Regions from separate parts of the Homo sapiens genome. Here region 2 is linked to region 1. The links come from fine-mapping of genetic effects on gene expression. A gene starts in region 1. The other region holds a variant in brackets. All regions are shown on one strand. Distances are from middle to middle. Region 1 holds the start of ACTR2 (actin related protein 2). Region 2 overlaps ACTR2 (actin related protein 2).

What was found. PIP is the estimated chance that this variant, and not a neighbour inherited with it, causes the effect.
Region 2: its variant is fine-mapped to the expression of ACTR2 in whole blood (TOPMed, PIP above 0.99).

What each region holds. Positions count from the first base shown.
Region 1 is chr2:65,221,509-65,233,118 of GRCh38, forward strand. ACTR2 (actin related protein 2) reads left to right here and starts at 6,323. Exons shown (of 9, transcript NM_005722.4): 1 at 6,323-6,449. The coding sequence starts at 6,402. LOC124907779 (a long non-coding RNA gene) reads right to left here and starts at 6,091. Exons shown (of 2, transcript XR_007086461.1): 1 at 5,973-6,091. RefSeq lists enhancers at 5,314-6,203, 6,204-7,092, 7,165-7,254 and a silencer at 6,475-6,664.
Region 2 is chr2:65,266,005-65,277,614 of GRCh38, forward strand. ACTR2 (actin related protein 2) reads left to right here. Exons shown (of 9, transcript NM_005722.4): 9 at 2,560-5,249. The coding sequence ends at 2,730. Among named protein-coding and RNA genes, the nearest start is that of ACTR2, 44 kb to the left of the region's middle. RefSeq lists an enhancer at 9,089-9,756. The variant T/C (reference allele first, on the strand shown) is at 4,496.

The sequences.
Region 1 (11,610 bases):
GGTGGCATGCGCCTGTACTCTCAGCTATTGAGGAGGCTGACGCAGCAGAATTGCTTGAACCTGCGAGGTGGAGATTGTAGTGAGCCGAGATAGCGCCACTGCACTCCAGCCTGGGTGACAGAGCAAGACTCTATCTCAAAAATAAAATAAAATAAGATAAAATAAAATAGACATATCAAACAAATGTAATTTTTGGACATTGTTTAGAACATTTTTGAGACAATTAGGAAAAACTGGATATGGGCTATTAGCCAATAAGAAATTACTGTAAATTTTGTTAGTTATAATAAAGGCATTGTAATTGTTTTATTATCTCTTTTTTTTTTGGAGACAGAGTCTCACTCTGTCACCCAGACTGGAGTGCAGTGGCACCATCTCAGCTCACTACAACATCTGTCTCCTGGTTCAAGCGATTCTCCTGCCTCAGCCTCTGGAGTAGCTAGGATTACAGGCACGTGCCACCACACCAAGCTAATTTTTGTATTTTTAGCAGAGATAGAGTTTCACCATGTTGACCAGGCTGGTCTCGTACTCCTGACCTCAGGTGACCCACCTGCCTTGGCCTCCCAAAGTGCTGGGATTACAGGCATGAGCCATCGCACCTGGCAGGTATTGAAATTGTTTTAAGTGTGTTTATCAGTAGAACTACCATATGATCCAGCAATCCCCACTGCGAGGTATACATCCCTAGAAAGGAATCAGTATATTGGAGAGATATCTGCACTCTCATGTTTACTGCGGCACTATTCACAATAGCCAAGATAGGGAATCAACCTAAGTGTCCATCAATGGATGAATGGATAAAGAAAATGCAGTACACATACACAATCGAGTACTATTCAGCCATAAAGAAGAATGAGATCCTGTCATGTGCAACAACATAGATGGAGCTGGAGGACATTATGCTAAGTGAAATGATCCAGGGACAGAAAGACAAATATTACATATTCTCACTTACATATGGGAGGTAAAATAGTAGATACCATGGAGATAGAGAATAGAATGGTCGTTATCAGAGTCTGGGAAGGGAAACTGGGGAGGGCGAAGACAAAGAGAAATTAGTTAATTGTCAAAAAAATACAGTTAGATAGAAGTTCTAGTATTTGAAAATACAATAGGGAAATTATAGTTGACAATATTTTATCATATATTTCAAAATAGCTAGAAAAGAATAATTGTATTGTTCTCAGGCTGGGCATGGTGGCTCATACCTGTATTCCCAGATCCAAGTGAGATGATAGAATCCCTCCCAAAAAGTCCTTCCTAGGCCAGGTGCAGTGGCTTACACCTGTAATCCTAACACGTTGGGATTGGGAGGGAGGATCCCAATGAGATGAGGATCACTTGAGGCCAGGAGTTGGGGACCAACCTGGTTAACATAGCGAGACCCAATCTCTCTCTCTCTCTCCCTCTCTCTTTCTCTCTCTCTCCCCCTCCCTCTTTCCTTTTTTTTTCTTTTCTTTCTTTCTCTCTCTCTCTTTCTTTCTTGCTCTCCCTCTTTCTTTTTCTTTCCTTTTTTTTTTTTTTTTTTTGAGACAGGGTCTCACTCTGTCACCCAGGCTGGAGTGCTGTGGGGTGATTTCAGCTCACTACAACCTCTGCCTCCCAGGCCAATCAGCTAATTTTTGTATTTTTAATAGAGATGGGGTTTCACCATGTTGGCTAGACTGGTATTGAATTTCTGGCCTCCACTGATCCACCTGCCTTGGCCTCCCCAAGTGCTGGCATTGCAGGCATGAGCCACCGTGCCCAGCCACAATCTCTATTTCTTTTAAATACAATAAAATAAAAAACAATAAAATTATAATAAAAAAGTCATTCCTGAGTAGGATGACTCGGGTTAAGAATGACTTAGGTTTTCATGATAGATCTGGAGTTTCCAAAACTCTGGGTAAACAGAGCTCAGGCTTTGAGGACAGGCACACCTGTGTCTAATCCTGCTTCTGCTACATGATAGGTACATTTGGGCAGGTAACTTAAATTTTTTAAAGCCTTATTGGAGTTACAACATGAAATTTACACATCTCAAAATTTACCTATTACAAGTGTGCAGTTTATTTTTAGTAAATTTTTATGGTTGTGTAACCATTACCAAAATCTAGTTTTAGTATTCCATCAATCCGTAAAGTTGTCCCATGCCCATCTGCAGCCAAACCTGGCTTCCAGTTTCAGCCCCAGCAATCACTAACCTGCTTTCTGTATCTATAATCTTGCTTTTTCTATATTTGTGATTTTCCTATGAAATCACAGTCTTTTTATCTGCTATAGTGTTTTTTTACTTTCATCCATGTTACAGCATGTATTGGTTTATTTTTATCACCAAATATTCTATTGTATGGCTGTACTACATATTGTTTACTCATTCACAAACTGATAAGACATTTGAATAGTTTCCACTTTTTGCCTATTATGAGTAATTCTGCAATGGACATGTAGGTATGAGTCCATGGACATATGTTTTCATTTCTTTTAGGTATATACCTAGGCGTGAAATTGCTGGGTTATATGGCAATTTATGCTTAATTTTTTAAAAAACTGTCAAACTGCTTTCCAAAGTGCCTGTACCATTTTACATTCTCACCAGGAATGTAGGAGTGTTTGTTTCTCCACATTCTTGCCAAACTTGTTTTCCATTTTTTTTTGTTTTATTTTGTTTTGTTTGTTTTTGAGACGGAGTCTCGCTGTCACCCAGGCTGGAGTGCAGTGGCACGATCTCCGCTCACTGCAATCTCTGCCTCCCAGGTTTAAGCGATTCTCCTGCCTGAGCCTCCCAAGTAGCAGGGATTACAGGCACCTGCCACCACGCCCGGCTAATTTTTGTATTTTTTAGTAGAGACGGGGTTTCACCATGTTGGGTCAGGCTGGTCTCAAACTCCTGACCTGAAGTGAGCCACTCGCCTTGGCTTCCCAAAGTGTTGGGATTACAGGTGTGAGCCACCTAGCCCCGCCAAAACTTGTTTTCTATTTTTCTGATTATAGCCATTCTAGTGGGTATTAAGTGTTATCTTATTATGCTTTCAATGTGCATTTCTCTAATGATTAATGATGATGAATATCTTTTTATGTACTTATTTGCCATTCATAAATCTTCTTTGGTAAAATATCTATTCAAATATTTTCTTCTAGTTCATGGCTTTTCTTTTTCTTTTTCTTTTTTTTTTTTTTTTTTGAGATGGAGTTATGCTCTGTTGCCCAGGCTGGAGTGCAGTGGCATGATTTTGGCTCACTGCAACCTTTGCCTCCTGGATTTAAGCAATTCTCCTGCCTCAGCCTCCCAAGTAGCTGGGATTGCAGGTGCCCGCCACCACGCCCAGCTAATTTTTGTATTTAGTAGAGATGGGGTTTCACCATGTTGGCGAGGCTGGTCTCAAACTCCTGACCTCAGGTGATCCACTCGCCTCAGTCTCCCAAAGTGCTGGAATTACAGGCGTGAGCCACTGCGCCCGGCCCTTTTGCTTTATTTTCTACTTTTTTTTTAATTGCTTGTTGCCTAAGACAGACCAAGATTTTTTGTTTTTGTTTTCTTCTTCTTTTTTTTTTTTTTTTTTTTTTAGATAGGGTCTGGCTGTCACCCAGGCTGTAGCGTAGTAGCGCAATCTCAGCTCACTGCAAATTCTGCCTCCTGGGCTCAAACCATCTTCCCACCTCTGCCTCCCAAGTAGCTGGGACTATATGCACAGCTAATTTTTGTATTTTTTGTAGAGATGGGGTTTCACCATCTGGCCTAGGCTGGTCTTGAACTCCTGAGCTCAAGCGATCCACCCACCTTGGTCTCCCAAAGTGCTGGGATTACAGATGTGAGCCATTGTCCCAGTCTAGATTTTTTGTTTCAATACATGAACTAAAAGCTTTAAATTTCTATTATGTCAACTATCAATTTTTTCTTTTATAGATCACGATTTTAGCGTCATATCTAAGCAAACTTTGCTTAACTTAATATCAAAAGATTTTCCTCTTTTTCTTCTGAAATTTATAGTTTTAGCTTTTATATTTAGGTCTATGATCCACTTAAATCAATTTTTATGTGTGATGTGAGGTAAGAATCAAAGTTCTTTTTTTTCCCTCCCACATCATTCATTGAAAAGATTACCCTTTCCCCATGGATTGTTTTAGCACCATTGTTGAAAATCAACTGACCATAATGTAAAGGTTTATTTGTGGACTATTTGATTCCATTGATCGATATATCTGCCTCTATGCCAGTATTACAGTCTTCATTACTGTAGCTTTATAATAAGTTTTGAATTCAGGTAGTGGAAGTTCTCCATCTTTTTCTGTTTCGAAATCCTTTTATTCTGGTTCCTTTTCATTTCATATAAATTTTAGGGCCAAACTTGCCAATTTTTTTTTTTTTTTTTTGAGACAGAGTCTTGCTCTCACCAGGCTGGAGTGCAGTGGCACGATCTCTGTCACTGCAACCTCTGCTTCCCGGGTTCAAGCGATTCTCCTGCCTCAGCTTCCTGAGTGGCTGGGATTACAGGCGCGTGCCAACACGCCCAGCTAATTTTTGTATTTTTAGTAGAGACGGGGTTTTGCCATGTTGGTCAGCCTTGTCTTGAACTCCTGATCTCAGGTGATTTGCCCTCCTTGGCCTCCCCAAGTGCTGGGATTACAGGCGTGAGCCACCGCGCCCGGAATAATGTTCTTTCTTTAAAAATACAAATTAGCAATCCCCTTAATTCCACAAAGAGGAAAAGTAAAAGAACACAGAAATGCTTGAGTTCAATTTGCTGAGACCAATAAAATGCACTTTCAAGAAAACTGCACAGCACTAGCATTGGAGGCCACAAAAATAAGATACGGACTCTATACTCAAGGAATTTATGAACAAATAAATTTTTCTGCTGGCTGAGGTACTTCTCTGACTGTTAAAGCAGGTAAAACGAAGAAATGTTCCTCCGAGACTTCCTACCTATTCTAACCTCTCAAACTTCTAATTGCAACAATGGCAGCTTTATTTTTATCTTAATATTTATGTGTTGAGGGTTCCATATAAGATTAGATTTGAATAAAGCACTGTATGCCTTTAAAAAGGTTTGAAAATCACTGGTCTAATAAAAGAACAGTGAAAACTGACAGGCAGCTATATTATAAAAAGAATACTGGATTGAGGGTTCATGATGACTGTTTTATTCTAGTTGTTGAACATGTACAGCCATGTCGAAGGAAAAGTTCTATTTCTCACCTCTCATAAAGGATGGCATTTTAAAGGTGAATTTTAATGTCATTCATCTAATAAATATTTGTTGCATGCAATAAGCACAATGTTATTCATATATTCATAGTAAAGTAATAGGGAGAAAGGAAGTACGGAATATCCTGAGGATATCAGCTGTCATCAGAGATGTAACAAGCTGGGTCTCAGAGCACAAGTTTGCCAATTGATTAAAAAGGAAAAAAAATGAGGCATCGTAGATAGAATCATAGGTCCAGAAGAACAGAATTAGAAATAGCTACCACTGAATGAACATTTCCTCCATGCATAGACTTTTATCCTCACCACACCTATGGAGATAGAAGTTATTATCCCCATGCAGACAGGGGTATGCCAAAATCACAAAACTCGTGAGTGGCAGCGCCACGTTTGAAACTGGGGTTGTCTGATTTCAAAGCCAAGGCTCTGGGTTCACAGAAGTACATGTACTTAAGAGGTGTGAAGCAACATGGGACTACTGGAAGGAGGCGGTGAGCCACGAGGCTGGAAATGCAGGCACCTGCTCTCGCTCACTTGACCATAGAGCAACTTGGGCAAAGAAGGGGTGGGCTGACATTGGAGTATGGAACAAACGCATGATTTCAAATAAGCATGTGTGTATCCATCCCAGTTCTGTCCGCTGAAAAGGCCTAGAAGCAATAACACACCAAGCCCTGTCGAATGGTGGGGTCCGCCAGGACCTCCAGGCTTGCTCCCCGCCCTACCCGCCAGCTTCTCCGCCACATTCCACTGCCGCAGCAGAACCGGTGTCCTTCACCTGCCTGCGTCTTCTGCAGTTCGTTAAGCAGCGCCCTTAGCTCCTGTGACACTTTAGGGAGAAAGCCGCAGCACCGGCGATGTTGGCCGCCATTAACGCCCGGCAAAGCGCCCGGAACTAGAAGCAGCGAAGAACCCGGGTGGGCAGCGACCGTGACAGCCGAGCCGGAAGCGGAGCTGCGGGAGGGGCCTCGACGCTCCTCCATCTTTTATTGGAGCTCACCGCTGCCAGTCGCGCTGCCTGCCCGTCCCACCCTTTTCGTGCAGGCATTCAGCTAAATGACGGGCGGAGCCCGGCGGCGGCTTCCGGTCGGGGGAAAAAAGTTGGGCCGAAGGAGGGGCCGGGAAGACGCAAGAGGAAGAAGAGAAAACGGCCGGGCGGCGGTGGCTGTAGGTTGTGCGGCTGCAGCGGCTCTTCCCTGGGCGGACGATGGACAGCCAGGGCAGGAAGGTGGTGGTGTGCGACAACGGCACCGGGGTAAGGGCCGCGCGAGGAGGCCTTGGCGGCCACAGACGCCGGCGGGGACGAGCAGCTGGCGCACGGGCCCTCGGCCCCCAGGGCTGCACCTCCGGGCCCTCGGGGCGAAGGGGCGCGGGGCGGTGCCTCCCACCTCCGCGGGCGTGGGAGCGAGCCGGCCGTTCCCTGGTCTCCCTTGAGCCTGCCACCCATTTAGCCTGCCACCCCCTCACCCTTCCGGGTGGGGGCGGCGGGCGAGACCGGCACTGGACATGGAGCCTACTGACCGCCCGGCAGGGACCTGCTCCGCGCTAATGCGGGGGCAATTGGGCTAAAGCGGACGGAAGCGTAAAAGGCTCGGTTTGTGTGTTCCGAGAAGGGCTCTTTTCCCCAGGGCCACCGGTTTGTAAAAAGGAGAAAGACCTAGAGGCCTTCCTCTTCCTGTATAGTTGAAGATACACCAAACGAGAAGCAGGAAGCGGGTTTACTTAAAAAAAAAAAAAAAAAAAGGGAAGTGCTGTCATGGAGTGTGGACCTCAGCCCTTTCGCTGTGTTTGTTGGGCTTTTTATTAGTTTTTTCGAGGGAAGGGGTCCAGATCGGCAGCGCATCGTTCACTTTTTGTTTTACATACTAGTATTTGGCCCAGGAGTAGGCCCACGGAGACCAGCATGTTCCATTGAGTGGTTTTGGGTGACCTAGGATCCCGCAAGACTCAAGTGTTAATTCCACTAGCCTTAGGGGAAGTTAATTAGTGTTGATTATCCCACCCCCAGCCCCCTTTTTTCCCTTCGTTTCAGTATACAGGTAATGTTAGCCTTTAAGATTCAAAAATTGTAAAATCTGACTAAAGCACTGATTTAGAAACTATTTGAAAATTGTTTCTGTAATCCCAGCACTTTGGGAGGCCCAGGCGGGCAGATCACCAGAGGTTAGGAGTTCGAGACCAGCCCAGCCAACGTGGTGAAACCCCGGTCTCTACTAAAAATACAAAAATTAGCCGGCCGTGGTGGTGCTTGCCTGTAATCCCAGCTACTTGGGAGGCTGAGGCAGGAGAATCCCTTGAAGCCAGGAAGCGGAGGTTGCAGTGAGCCGAGATTGCGCCACTGCACTCCAGCCTGGGCGACAAGAGTGAAACTCCGTCTCAATTATAAAAAAAAAAAATTGTTTCATTCAGACCTCCCTCTTGCCAGATTAAAAAAAAATGTATTTTGGGTAGCAAAGTCAGCAAATTAGAAGATGGAAATATTATTTATTCTGGATGACTTCTATAGTGATTTCTAACCATTTTGATGTTGCAACATTTTGTGAGTTTTCTCCCCTCCCTCCCATAAATATGATGTATGAATTAAAGTTCATTTTACTTGAACAAAACACTTTGGAATCTGAATTGTTGAGGGGGAAAAGAGCTGGTATTTACTGCCATAATACTGCCCTTGATTAGATTTGTTACACAATTTTACAAGCAATAATTATGGTAGCTTCATCTGAACTGTGTTAAAAATGGACTAGAGTAAAAAGAGTGTTAACGTACATTGAGGCCAGGCGCGGTGGCTCATGCCTGTAATCCCAGCACTTTGGGAGGTCTAGGCGGGCGGATCACCTGAAGTCAGGAGTTTGAGACCAGGCTGGCCAACATAGTGAAACCCCGTCTCTACTAAAAATACAAAAATTAGCCGGGCATGGTGGTGGGCGTCTGTAATCCCAGCTACTCGGTAGGCTGAGGCAGGAGAATCGCTTGAACCCGGTAGGCGGAGGTTGCAGTGAGCCGAGATCGCACCACTCCAGCCTGGGCGACAGAGCAAGACTCCGTCTCAAAAAAAAAAAAAAAAAAAAAGAAAAACAAAACATATTAATGTGACGGTTTTTAAGAATGTAATATTTTTAAAAAGGCAGATCCACTGCTATGGAAACGTCTAAGATTTTAAGTTGAAAAAGGTTTTAGAATGATTCAGTTTAAGTGTGTGTTCCTTATTAAAGATGTATGTCCACAAACTTGTATCCGCATATGAAAGTTTTGGAGGGATACATAAGAAATGTTCATAATGGTTACCTATGAGACAGAGGATAAGGGAGTGAGGGAAGATGGAGAGGACTTCATGACCTTTCTGAATTATTGGAAAAATGTTCTTTATTTGAACAAAGCAAGTATTATTAAACTATATTTAAACTAAATTAACCATAAACGCATGTTACATGTGCGGCTAAAATTCAGTTAAATGTGCTTTTTAAAAAAGTATTAGCCTGATTTCCACTATAGTTTCAAATTGGCCTCTAAATAAATAAAAAACTTTAAAAATTGAATTTAAAATTTTTTGTTTTGTGATTGTGTCAGATACTCTTTTTAGAAAGTCAAGCCAGTTATATTTTAATGAATTCTTTTAGGGGTTCAAGGTAATGAGCCCTGTATTTGTAGTATATATGAGTTTTTAAATATTAAATTAGAATGGGAATGTTAACCGAAGCTGATTTTTTTTTTTTTTTTTTTTTTTTTGGACACAGGATCTAGCTCTGTTGCCCAGGCTGGAGAGCGATGGCGTGATCTCGGCTCTCTGCAACCTCTGCCTCCTGGGCTCAAGCGGTTCTCCTGCTTCAGCCTCCCGAGTAGCTGGGACTACAGGCTTGTGCCACCACACCCAGTTAATTTTTTTATTTTTGTAGAGACTGGGTCTCCCTATGTTACCCAGGCTGGTCTTGAACTCCTGGGGTTAAAAGATCTGCCCACTGCGGCCTCCTAAAGTGCTAGGATTACAGGCTTGAGCCACTGCACCCTGCTGTCAGAAGCTAATGTTATGTTACTATTCCATTAGTTAGCTAACATTAGAAGGCTGATTTTAGGCTGGGCGTTGTGGCTCATGCCTGTAATCCCAGCACTTTGGGAGGCCGAGGTAGGAGGTTCACTTGAGGTCAGGAGTTTGAGACCAGCATGGCCATCATGGTGAAACCCCGTGTCTACTAAAAATACAAAAATTAGCCGGGTGTGGTTTCTGATGCCTGAAATCCCAGCTACTTGGGAGGCTGAGGCAGGAGAATTACTTGTACCTGGGAGGCAGAGGTTGCAGTGAGCCAAGATCACGCCACTGCACTCCAGCCTGGGCGACAGAGTGAGACTGTCACAAAAAAAAAAAAAAGCTGATTGTAGTATGTTATTGATTAGTCTTGTGTCTAATCCATGTTTTTAAGATTCTTTTCCTTAAGACAAGTGATCAATTCCTGTCATAAATGAAAAAAGTGAGTGTAATTAATTCAAATAAAATTTATCTGTTCTTATGCTTCTAGTTATTTTAAAATTTTATGCAGATTTTCTATGGACATGATTGGTTTCAAATGAAGAAACAGTGCTGTTAAAATACATGAATCATATAACAGGAATGCTGTAATAGTTCTGAGTATGTAGAGGACTAGGAACCGCTTAGATTGTGTATTCTGTTTCTTACCATTTGTAGACATGAATAATCATCTTGATTTTATTTAGATACCTGAAGTTATAATGATTCCTTTATAATTAAATATTAAAGAAGATATTCAGATGTAATTTTGCAAATTTATGGAAATAGTTGTTATCCTAAGGTGTTTTCATTTGCTCCTTACATGCCTTAGGTTTTAAAATTGTAGGCTGGCTGGGTGTGGTTCCTCATGCCTGTATTTCCAGCATTTTGGGAGGCCGAGGTGAGAGGATTTCTTGAGGCCAAGAGTTTGAGACTAGCCTGGGTTAGTATAACAAGACCCCATATCTAGTAAAAATAAAAATAAAATTACAGGCTTTTTAAAAAGTTACGATTCTTTTAACCTCTCTGGCAGACCCAAATTAAATATTCTAGGACAGGAGTGTCCAGTCTTTTGGCTTCCCTGGGCCACATTGGAAGAGGAATTGTCTTGGGCCACACATGAAATACACTAACAATAGCTGATGAACTAAAAAAATCACCAAAAAAATTTCATAATGTTTTAAGAAAGTTTGTGAATTTGTGTTGGGCCTCATGCAGCCCGTGGGCCATGGGTTGGACAAGTTTGCCTGGAAACAAGTTTGTACTTACGATCACATGACCAATGTTGGTCCCGCTTGATTTTCTATCTCCCAGCTTGACCAGTGTCTCAGTAGGGTTGCCCAGAGGAGGAAAACTCATTTGATCCAATAATTTATGTGGATTTTAACCATTCAAACCTCCTTCTGAAATCAAGCCACTTAAAGTGGCCCAGATAGGTGAAAATCTGGAGGTCTGTGAAACTCTAGGTTTAGGTCCTCTTCACGAGCTAGGCCCAGGCCCCTGGTGTTACGTGTCTTGTTACCAGACTAGGGTGATTTCATCAGCATTGAGTTAGATCACCAACAAAATGAAGGTTTCTCCAGTGCGTGCTATGTTGCTGGCACAGTGCTTAATAAGGTCCAGTCGTACAGAGAAGCTTATAGTGCTAGAATAATTGCATTTGCATTTATGTAATTGACATTTGTAGTTGATTGTGGCCTGCTTTATCGGGCTTATGCTACTTTATATGTTGAATTTAGGAGTGTTTGAAACAGAAACAAACCAAAACCAAATTTGGTTTCATCTTGCAAAATGCTTTGGTATAAGTAGAATAAATATTTTGGTGGCCTAAGATCAGAACAGTCACTGTGCAGTTAACTTACTAAAGAACATCAGTACCATGAGATAAAATTAGTAAGGGGAAAATAAATATTAAATAAGCCCAAATGGGGCTTTATAAATCCCAGGTTATTATTTTTTTGAAGAGAAAAAAAAAATGTACTTTTAGAGCAGATGTAGATAGAATTTTTCATTTTTGCTTGAAAGAACATTATACTGTTCATATTCTTACCATTTGATGACTCAGTGGGAAGTAAGGGAACTAGTTTAAACCACACTGCTGTGAAGAGGAAACTATATATGGTAAAATCTATTTCTTAAACACAGCCTTACTGCACACAATGAAAGAACGAAGTCACCAAGTCTTAAAATGATTGACATGGGGGAGGAATTTCAAGGATTAAGATGATACCAATGATACCAAATGATAGTTTAGAAAGGAATGTTTTCTTTGTATTTTATCACATCATGGTTTAGTTTTTTTTTTTTTTTTAGACAGAGTCTTGCTCCGTTGCCCAGGCCAGAGTGCAGTGGCATGATTTTGGCTTACTGCAGCCTCCATCTCCCGGGTTCAAGCAATTCTCCTGCCTCAGCCTCC
Region 2 (11,610 bases), 44 kb after region 1:
ACTGTCTAAGTACTTCACTTATTTTTCTGATTTTATTGAGTTTTACATATAATTTATAATTAATCTCAGGTGATCATTTATTCAGCAAACATTTCTTGAACTCCTGGGTGCCAGACATAGGTCTAGGTGCCGGGGACAAACAAAACAATGAAAACAGAATCCCTGCTTTTAGTCTAAATAATGTATTAGTGGTAATAAGTGATATGAAGAAAAGTAAGGTGAAGAGCTGGAAAATGTTAGTGGTTGGGGAGGTAGTGTGCTCCTTCATAAACTGTGATCAGGAAAGGCCTTTTGGATGAAGTGACTTTTGATCAGAGACCTAAGTTGAGCGTGAGAGGAGTGAGCCTTGTGACTGTCTGGGGGAAGAATCTTCCAGGCAGGAAAAATGCAAAAGCCCCAGGTTGGTGGGAGTGTGCCAGTGTGGCTGGAGCAGAGTGAGCAAGGGAGGGGGGCAGGTGGGATATGAGGTCAGAAGGGTAGCAGGAGGGCAGGTCTTGTTCAGCCATGGTAAAGGGTTTGGCTTGACTCCTGGTGAAATGGAAAGTCTTGGGTGTGGGGGCGGTTTAAGCAGAGAAATGATAGGATCTGATGTATATTTTTAAAGGATCATTAAGTCTGGTGTGGTGAATAGACTCTTGGGGGAAGAGGGAACAAAGGTGGGCATAGAGAGACCAGTTAGGAGGCACTGAGAGGAGGGGAGGGATGGTAGAGTTTTAGAATAGAGGAGGAGGTTGAAATGGTTGTTTTGGAGAATGGAAGCGAGAATAGAGAAATGTAATAGGATTGCCATGCAGCAGGAAGGGCTCAGTTGAGGTTAGTGATACATTATAGCAAGATGTTTTGTTTCTTTCCTATCTTGTTCAGCTGCTTGACAGCAGGTGCAATTTGTCTGTAGGAATCTGTAGATGAGTTCAGCAAGGAGGGAGTGGTAGATGGAATGATCTGATAGAATGAGTTTCAGTGGGGCTATGGAGTTTTAGGGATGAGCGAGATAGAAGCAGCAATGAAGAGCAATAACTCATATTACCAAACCTCCAGGGTTAAGGTAGTGTGTGAGAGAGAAACAGTAAAGCAGTTGAGGTATTTACAGAAGCAGTGTCTTCAGGGGCTAGCTAAGTTTCCCTTAGAGTAGAGGTGGTCATCTATAGCCCTTATGCCAAAACTGGTTTGTTTGTTTTTTTTAAGTTTTATTGGAACACAGCCAAGCCCATTTGTTTACATAATGTTACCTGTTGTCACATATTGTCTGTGGGCACCTTCTAGCTACATGTGGGGTTGGGTACTTGTCACGCCTACAAAGCCTCAAGTATCTGGCCCTTCACAAAAAAAGTTTGCTGACCCCTATGTAAGAGCAAGAAAGTAAAAGGAACAATTAAAACAGTCTCAGAATTGGTAAATAAACTGATGTTTTTCTTTATCTTGGATTGTTAGAACCCTTACAGTTCATTTATGTGACATAAATATACAAATGATTTAGAATGACATAGTTACATTGGGTCTTTTTTGCAGATCGTGATACTGTAAATGAAAAACTTGCTATGTCATTTTAAGGTTTCTCTTTCAGGTGTTGACCAACCATAAAGATAAGGATGTGTCCTTCCTAGACACTTAATAGTAGCTACAGAGTATAAAACTTTTCCCAATTGCCTTTAATTTTGGTTACTGTGTTCATTTTCTCATAACATCCTGATGATTTGTTTTGACCATATTTGGCCTTGTTTATTTTAAGAACATTTCATTTGATTTTGAGACAATAGAAAGTAAGCTTTGCTTAAAAGAAAAGAACTTCAGTTTTACTCTATTGCCCTGGACTAGAATCATAACAGTATGAGACCTTGAAGAAGTCATGCAAGTCCTCTTTTTTTTTTTTTTTTTTTTTTTTTTTTGAGATTGAGTCTCTGGGCTCACTGCAAGCTCCACCTCCCAGGTTTACGTCATTCTCCTGCCTCAGCCTCCCGAGTAGCTGGGACTACAGGCACCCACTACCATGCCCGGCTAATTTTTTTGTATTTTTAGTAGAGACGGGGTTTCACTGTGTTAGCCAGGATGGTCTCGATCTCCTGACCTCGTGATCCGCCCGCCTTGGCCTCCCAAAGTGCTGGGATTACACTTGAGCCACCACACCCAGCCATGCAAGTCCTCTTATCCAGACTTTGCTTGACAGCAAAGTGACTTTCCCAAGTGGTCATCTGCCATTGGATGGGAAATTTGCTCTAATTATGTCTTGGATGTTTGGTCTCTCAGTAGGGTGTTAAGTCATGTAATTTACTGATCAAATTAGGACACTCAAGAATGGAAAGGGTGGTATTAATAATGATGGGACACCACGTGTAAATCAGGACTGTTCCAAGCATGCTGGGATGGATGTGTGGTCTCCTAAACATGAGCTTTGGGCAAATTACTAAATGTTTCTGTACCTCAGGTACCAAATATTACGTTCTACTTATATTACAGGACTGTTGCAAGTTTGAGGGAGAGCATATATTTAAAAAGCCATTTTCATAAAGCAGAAAGCACTGTGCACATGTACCATTTCATTATCCTTTCTTTCTCCTTTAGAAATTTAAGATCCGCATTGAAGACCCACCCCGCAGAAAGCACATGGTATTCCTGGGTGGTGCAGTTCTAGCGGATATCATGAAAGACAAAGACAACTTTTGGATGACCCGACAAGAGTACCAAGAAAAGGGTGTCCGTGTGCTAGAGAAACTTGGTGTGACTGTTCGATAAACTCCAAAGCTTGTTCCCGTCATACCCGTAATGCTTTCTTTTTTCCTTTATTGCCAATCTTTGAACTCATTCAACTCCAGGACATGGAAGAGGCCTCTCTCTGCCCTTTGACTGGAAAGGTCAAGTTTTATTCTGGTGTCTTGGGGAAGCTTTGTTAAATTTTTGTTAATGTGGGTAAATCTGAGTTTAATTCAACTGCTTCCCTACATAGACTAGAGGGCTAAGGATTCTGTCTGCTGCTTTGTTTCTTCTAAGTAGGCATTTAGATCATTCCTATAGGCTTCCTATTTTCACTTTACTGCTCTAATGCTGCTAGTCGTAGTCTTTAGCACACTAGGTGGTATGCCTTTATTAGCATAAAACAAAAAAAACTTTAACAGGAGCTTTTACATATTACTGGGATGGGGGGTGGTTCGGGATGGGTGGGCAGCTGCTGAACCCTTTAGGGCATTTCCTCTGTAATGTGGCGCTTTCAACTGTACTGCTGCAGCTTTAAGTACCTTAAAGCTTCTCCTGTGAACTTCTTAGGGAAATGTTAGGTTCAGAACTAAAGTGTTTTGGGTGGGTTTTGTTGCGGGGGGGAGGGTAACAATGGGTGGTCTTCTGATTTTTATTTTTGAGGTTTTGTCAACTGGAGTACGTAGAGGAACTTTATTTACAGTACTTTGATTTGGCAGGTTTTCTTCTACTTGTGCTCTGCCTGGAGCTGTTTCCATATGATATAAAAAGCAAGTGTAGTATTCCATTACTATGTGGCTTAGGGATTTATTTGTTTTTTAAAATCAACCATGTTAGCTGGGATTAGACTCCCTACAGTCCTTCAATGGAAAAGTAACATTTAAAAATCCTTTGGGTAATTCGAATTACAGATTTAAAAGAGCTTAAGATCTGGTGTTTTGTTAATGCTTCTGTTTATTCCAGAAGCATTAAGGTAACCCATTGCCAAGTATCATTCTTGCAAATTATTCTTTTATATAACTGACCAGTGCTTAATAAAACAAGCAGGTACTTACAAATAATTACTGGCAGTAGGTTATAATTGGTGGTTTAAAAATAACATTGGAATACAGGACTTGTTGCCAATTGGGTAATTTTCATTAGTTGTTTTGTTTGTTTTGATTTGAAACCTGGAAATACAGTAAAATTTGACTGTTTAAAATGTTGGCCAAAAAAATCAAGATTTAATTTTTTTATTTGTACTGAAAAACTAATCATAACTGTTAATTCTCAGCCATCTTTGAAGCTTGAAAGAAGAGTCTTTGGTATTTTGTAAACGTTAGCAGACTTTCCTGCCAGTGTCAGAAAATCCTATTTATGAATCCTGTCGGTATTCCTTGGTATCTGAAAAAAATACCAAATAGTACCATACATGAGTTATTTCTAAGTTTGAAAAATAAAAAGAAATTGCATCACACTAATTACAAAATACAAGTTCTGGAAAAAATATTTTTCTTCATTTTAAAACTTTTTTTTAACTAATAATAGCTTTGAAAGAAGAGGCTTAATTTGGGGGTGGTAACTAAAATCAAAAGAAATGATTGACTTGAGGGTCTCTGTTTGGTAAGAATACATCATTAGCTTAAATAAGCAGCAGAAGGTTAGTTTTAATTATGTAGCTTCTGTTAATATTAAGTGTTTTTTGTCTGTTTTACCTCAATTTGAACAGATAAGTTTGCCTGCATGCTGGACATGCCTCAGAACCCTGAATAGCCCGTACTAGATCTTGGGAACATGGATCTTAGAGTCACTTTGGAATAAGTTCTTA[T/C]ATAAATACCCCCAGCCTTTTGAGAACGGGGCTTGTTAAAGGACGCGTATGTAGGGCCCGTACCTACTGGCAGTTGGGTTCAGGGAAATGGGATTGACTTGGCCTTCAGGCTCCTTTGGTCATAATTTTAAAATATGGGAGTAGAAAACAACAAAGAATGGAATGGACTCTTAAAACAATGAAAGAGCATTTATCGTTTGTCCCTTGAATGTAGAATTTGTTTTTGATTTCATAATTCTGCTGGTAAATGTGACAGTTAAAATGGTGCATTATGTATATATATTATAATTTAGAAATACCATTTTATAATTTTACTATTCCAGGGTGACATAATGCATTTAAATTTGGGATTTGGGTGGAGTATTATGTTTAACTGGAGTTGTCAAGTATGAGTCCCTCAGGAAAAAAAAAAAATTCTGTTTTAAAAAGCAATCTGATTCTTAGCTCTTGAAACTATTGCTACTTAAATTTCCAATAATTAAAAATTTAAAATTTTTAAATTAGAATTGCCAATACTTCTACATTTGAGAAGGGTTTTTTTAGAAATACATTTAGTAAAGTCCCCAAGACATTAGTCTTACATTTAAACTTTTTTCTTTAAAACATGGTTTTGGTGGTTAACTTTTACACAGTTCTGAGTACTGTTAATATCTGGAAAGTATCTTGAGATATCAGTGGAAAGCTAAACAGTCTAAATTAACATGAAATACTTCATTTTGATTGAGAAAATAAAATCAGATTTTTTCAAAGTCAATTTGAATTTTGTCATTTCTTTCTAATAGTTATTTCTTGTTTCATTTTCTTGTTAATGCAAGATGAATTGACAGTTTATGCTAGTTGTTAGGTCAAGTTCATGTCAGTGTTCTATTATTGACAAAACAACTCATTATTTCTGGTATGATTTTATAAATACATAAGAAAATAGAATAGCGATTTATAGCTACATCAGAGGCTGTTTTCTTCCAACAAACTGTTTTGTCTCCCAAAAGATTTAAGGTGGCTTTCACAGAATTAGAAATGCTAAAGAGACCTGTATGTAACATGCCCCCTTTCAAGGACATATTAGCTCATCTGCAGACTTTTAGGCATATTATTTTTAACAAATAAAAGAAGGATGAAAATACATTTAACTGACCTTTTCTTGTTTTATACTAGCCTTGAGGATGAGGGCTGGAGAGTAGAGAGAGTATTTTTGCCTTTCCTTCTTCGTGGACTTGTATGTGCAAACCTCATTGCCCGCTTCAGGGCCGGAGTCCCAGACAGCGAACGTAAGGGTTGTCTCTGGTGTTTTATCTAGTTTCTTCTGAGTTGCGGAAGAAGAATATGATAACAGCTATCTCCATATGTAATGGAGGAAGAAAATACCAGGCACTGCATAGTGCCTTTGATGGAATGAATGTCTCTCAGTGCACTTCATTTTTTTCCTCCACCCACAAACTTTGACCATTATACAATTGAGTGAGTTTATTAACTGTATTAATTTTAGAACCATCAAAGAGGGTAGCCAACTAAAGTGAACCAGAAACTCGAGGATTAATCTAAACTCGATTTTTTCTTTCTTTTGAGACGGAGTTTCACTCTTGTTGCCCAGCTGGAGTGCAATGGAGCGATCTTGGCTCACCGCAGCCTCCACCTCCCGGGTTCAAGCGATTCTCCTGCCTCAGCCTCCCAAGTAACTGGGATTACAGGCATGCGCCACCACGCCCGGCTAATTTTGTATTTTTAGTAGAGAGGGTTTCTCCATGTTGGTCAGGCTGGTCTCGAACTCCCGACCTCAGATGATCCACCCGCCTCAGCCTCCCAAAGTGCTAGGATTACAGGCGTGAGCCACCGCGGCCGGCTAAGCTCAATATTTAACATGCTCTCTAACCTTGGACTAATTGGCCAACTACACACAATACTGGGATACTTTTTTCCTCTGGCTCAAAAATCTCTGACCTCTTTGAAGATTGAAAAATGCTACATCAGAGGTAAGTGGAGGAGGTAAGGGGACGTACCTGGGAAAGCATGTTTGCATGTGTGAATAACTAAAAGGCTAAAATTAGTGACTTTAACCATTATATTGAAAGTAACTTTTAGTCATAGAATAGAAATAAACTTGATTTAGAGGAGGTGAAAATAGGCAGCTATTACAAAAATTTCAAGTGATGTTCACATTAATATAACATTTTAAAAACATTCTAAAGCATCTTTCTTTGTATTGTTTAACATCTGAAATTAGGAAGAAAGAAGCTATTGAACCATAGTTACTTTTGTTTAAATTATCTAGACTGGCAGTGACAAAAAGTCTTGTTGCCTATTATAAGTGTCTCAGTTTGCGTTATCTGCAGATGTAAAATATCTGAGTAGGGGGAATTCAAATGATTTATCTCTTCCTTTTGGCAGAATGGAGTTCCTGTCTCTTTCATATCTACCCCCTCAACTCCTCCCACCCACCAGAGGAAAAAAGGAAAGACTGGAAAAGACTTGGCATATAATTTTCCATGAAACATTTGACGTAGGAATAGAAGAATTAGAGAATGTTGAGTAGATTTTCATGGACCAGTTGAAAGGTTTGGGTTTGGCAAGTGCAGAAAGCAATCACAAAGGTATTACAGAGTGATTCTTATGCCCAGGGTAGCCTTTAAGAACTGTACCCTTTGCCATTCACAGCAAGTGGAGCTTTTGCCTGATGAATGCTTTAAAAAATCGGTAAAAAGAAAACTCCAGTGAGTAAAATATTTGTTCTTCCTTAAATATGGGTTTGAAAAAGGGCCTCAACTCTCAAGGATAAGGATTTTTAAAATTATACTTTTTGTGCATAAAAGTGTAATTACGACCGGGCACGGTGGCTCAGGCCTGTAATCTCACCACTTTGGGAGGCTGAGGGGGGCCAGTAACCTGAGGTCGGAGTTCGAGACCAGCCTGACCGACATGCAGAAACCCCGTCTCTATTAAAAAATACAAGATTAGCCAGGTGTGGTGGCACAAGTCCGTAATCCCAGCTACTTGGGAAGCTGAGGCAGGAGAATCGCTTGAACCCGGGAGGCAGAGGTTGTGGTGAGCCGAAATTGTGCCATTGCACTGCAGCCTGGGCAACAAGAGTGAAACTCCATCTCAAAAAACAGAAAATGTAATCATAAAAATGTGAATGCAAATGCATTAATATCAAAGGAGGTTTTAAGAAATTAGGGAAATTCTAAAAGTCTGCCACAATATTAATTGGATCATTTTAAATGAGTATGTTTATGTGAGTGCCTTGATGTTCTGTAGGGGTTGAGATTTTTTTCGAGGTGTCTGTGCACAAGAAAATTAAGCGATCTATTTTACTTTAGAAAACCAAATCTTGCTGGGCATTGTGTAATCCCAACAATTTGGGAGGTCGAGGCAGGCGGATCACTTGAGGTCAGGAGTTTGAGACCAGCCTGGCCAACATAGCAAAACCTGTCTCCACTAAAAATACAAAAAATTAGGTGTGGTGGCGCATACCTGTAATCCCAGCTACTCAGGAGGCTGAGGCAGGAGAATTGCTTAAACCCAGGAGACAGAGGCTGCAGTGAGCCAACATCATGCCACTGCACTCCAGCCTGGGCAACAGAGCGAGACTCCATCTCAATAATAATAATATATAAAAATCTAAGGGTTTCCTGAGTTGTTAATTCTTATATTTTCATATTTTCTTATGTTTACATGTATATATTCTTATATTTTTATATTTTGTGACAACTTAGTGTTTGAAGAGTAAGAAATTTGGGCCTAAATGAGGCTCAGTTGTTAAATTGATAATACACATTTGACCCCTTTATTGGAAACCTACAATTTACCTCCAGATGTGTTTTTTTTTTCCCTGCTAACTTAGATCTACATTTGAAAGCTTCTGGCATTAATTAATTTTTATTTAAGAGCTATTAGGAAGGAGTGGAACCTAAACTATGGTGACAATTTAAAGGACCTTGATTCAAAGAATCAATTAAGGAGGCTGTCCTCTTTGTTTTGCTTTTACTTAGTAGTTTAGGTGGAATTCAAGCAGATAATATTCAACCTCTAAGTTCCCTGCTTACACAACTTGGAATTCTAAAGGAGTCTCTAAAATGAAAACATCCCACAGGAAGTGATGTAGCTAAAGTATGATTATCTGTATTTTTAAAACAAATTACTTGTCCTTCAAATGTCTTTTTCAGTATGGGGTCAGAATCACATGTTCCTTTTGTTAAAAATGCAGGCTCTTAGGCGGGGCGCGGTGGCTCACGCCTGTAATCCCAGCACTTTGGGAGGCCAAGGCAGTGGGGGATCACCTGAGGTCAGGAGTTCGAGACCAGCCTGATCAACACGACAAAACCCTGTCTCTACTAAAAGTACAAACCGGGCATGGTGGCGGTCGCCTGTAATTCCAACTATTCCTACTCAGGAGGCTGAGGCAGGAGAATGGCTTGAACCCAGGAGGTGGAGGTTACAGTGAGCTGGGATCAGCCACTGCACTCCAGCCTGGGTGACAGAGCGAGACTCCATCTTAAAAAAAAAAAAAAAAAAAAAAAAGCAGGCTTCCTTGAGCCCCACTCTGGACCACCGAATGGAGCCTGAGGGTTTGCTTGTTTTCCAACTCTTCCCCCACAACTCTCATACTCCTGTTTTAGGGGCTAAGAGGACAGTCAGGCTTCAAAGTATGAACCACTCTCCTGGGCCCACACCTGCAATGCCCTTCTTTCCTCCTCTTCCTGGGGAAAACTAGGGCTTTTAGCAGATGGGTTCAGAAGTGACACAGGAAGCAGCCCTGGGAAGCCGGAACCACTTAGAGACCATCTTTTGCCAGTGTGCTGACCTCTGCTCCACCTCCCCCAAATGGATCTTCAGTTCAAATGGATGATAAACACCTTTTCATTAAAAAGGCCAGTTCTGGGATGGTTAAAGCACCATCAGTCATTTACACATCCATTTGTATTAAAAGGAAATCCAGAGACTCACACTGACGCCTAGGGGAGATTAGCAGCTCTTTGTGATGTAAGTGAAAGGAAGGTCTGTAACTTTGGCCTAAGGAGTGCATTGGAGAAAATTGGTAGGTTCCTGAGGAAATTCAGTTTTTAGAGCAAGCTCACTTTTTAGGGCAAGCTCACCTTGGTAGATGAGAGTTGAGTGCTGGAAGTGGTAAAATAACCAAAGCAAACTGCTCATTTCAACATTCCTTTCTCCTCGCTTCCGACTTGCAGTGTTCCAGCTTCCTGAACTCAAGCTAGTACAGCTAATGCTACAAGTTTAGCTGCTTGATACATGAAAGTGATTTATAATCAGGCCAAGAAACCAACCTACCAGATGTAGCTTTACTTTTAGAGAGCATGTATGTATTTCAAGTTCTATGCAACTGACAAATGAACTTTTGGATGCAACTTGTTCAAAAGTGGAAGTATTGAATTGTTTATGGTGACCAACAGTCCACACATTAATGACTGCTATAATTATGTTTCTTATGATATCAAAACTGACATGGTCCCCTAATACAGAATGCAGTTCATAATGTGGATTTGGGGAGTGCCAGTGTTCACCATTTGTGTTTTTGAAACACAAGGTATAGGTGGTGTGAGGAAAACTATCTTCTGACTTTAAGCTACTATTTTTTAAATGGTATGACAACTTTATGTTGATTTCTTTTGGTTAATCCGACCAGTCTTAGTGTTGCATGAAAATGATCTTCATCATTTCCATTTCATAGCAACTCTTTTATGCCTTAAACATTTTTTTTCTGTTCATACCATTCAAAAGAAGCTAAGATTTGTGGTGTGAGCCAACACAAATCCTCCCTCAGGTGCTTTAATAACAGTAAGACAGGCTTCCTTGAATATCCTAAATGAAAGCTTTGTTTTGTTGCACTTTTGAACAAATACGTGAAGAGAATGATTTATGTAATGAAATTCCATGTTTTAAGAGTCTAAAGAGGATTGGATTTATGGTTCTTCCACCCCCATCCCCACCATTGAAACTAGAAAACTTGTGACTTTGGCCCAGATCGCAAAAACCTTTGCTGCTCCCAAGTTCCCTGAACTGTTAGGATAAAATAGAATACTAAAGAGTACCTTAAACTCAGAAGGCATGATTTGCTAACTGTCAACCTAAACCAAATGGCAGCTCACACCACTAGCTGATTTTATTCAGAAGATAGGGCTAAAGGAGAAACTTTTCCCACTAAATTTCAGTACAGTTACTACTTTCAAGAATACACCCTGTTTTCTTCAGGCTCTGAGCTTGTCTGCTGAAATAATTAGCTGTGAGGCAGACAGGGAAAGAATTGCATCTGCAAAAAGCAGGAAGACAAGGTCAAGAGAAGAGGAGGCAGCTTGACTCACAGCTGCCCACCCTGCAGAGGAGCAGAGCTTGCCAAGAATATCCACATTGATTTATGGAGAAAAAATCAGGAAACCATTCACCCCAGATAGCTTGGATTTGTGACAATATCAGTGTAAACGATTTCCATTTAGACTGTGAATTCCGAGTCTCCGTAGGTGCTCCATTTTTTCCCACCTTCGCCCCTTCTCCGAGCATTTCTAGCAACACTCGGGCCAGTGATTCTCAAACTTTGGGGTGCCTGAGACTCTCTTGAGCTAGTGACAATGCAGATACCTGGCTCCACTTCCAGAAATTGAGGTGACACTCTTAGGAAGGGGTCTTTTGCACTTAGAAAAATGTGAATCAGAAACCAGGGAAATTTTGTAAGAATTAAGCTACAGACTAAATGATATTAATAAAAAATCTTGGTATGTTTGTACAGAAGGTTTCACTTAATTAGGAGTTTCCTAAGAGAATGAAGGCAAAGGCTTTTCCGCCTGGGGACTCTTGAGACTCTTCGGGCTTACTCTCCAGGGTGCCACTGTATACCTTGAGAAAACTGCTGGCTTGCTTCATTCTTGTGCCTAATCTTGCTCACAAAGGAACATGCTACCAGTCTCATCTGCTTCCAAAGGGCTTTGTTTCAAATCCCTTTTGGAAAAGGGGTGCATTTTTCTGCCTTGGTTTACTGCCTTTTGGAGAACAAGAATGCATCTCAAACGTGTTTATTGAACTTTTAAAGTTCCTTGACTTTCTGCGGGCAGAGCCAACCATGGTCTTCAGACCCTACGTTAATTAAGAGAGCTAAAAAGGAAGCAATG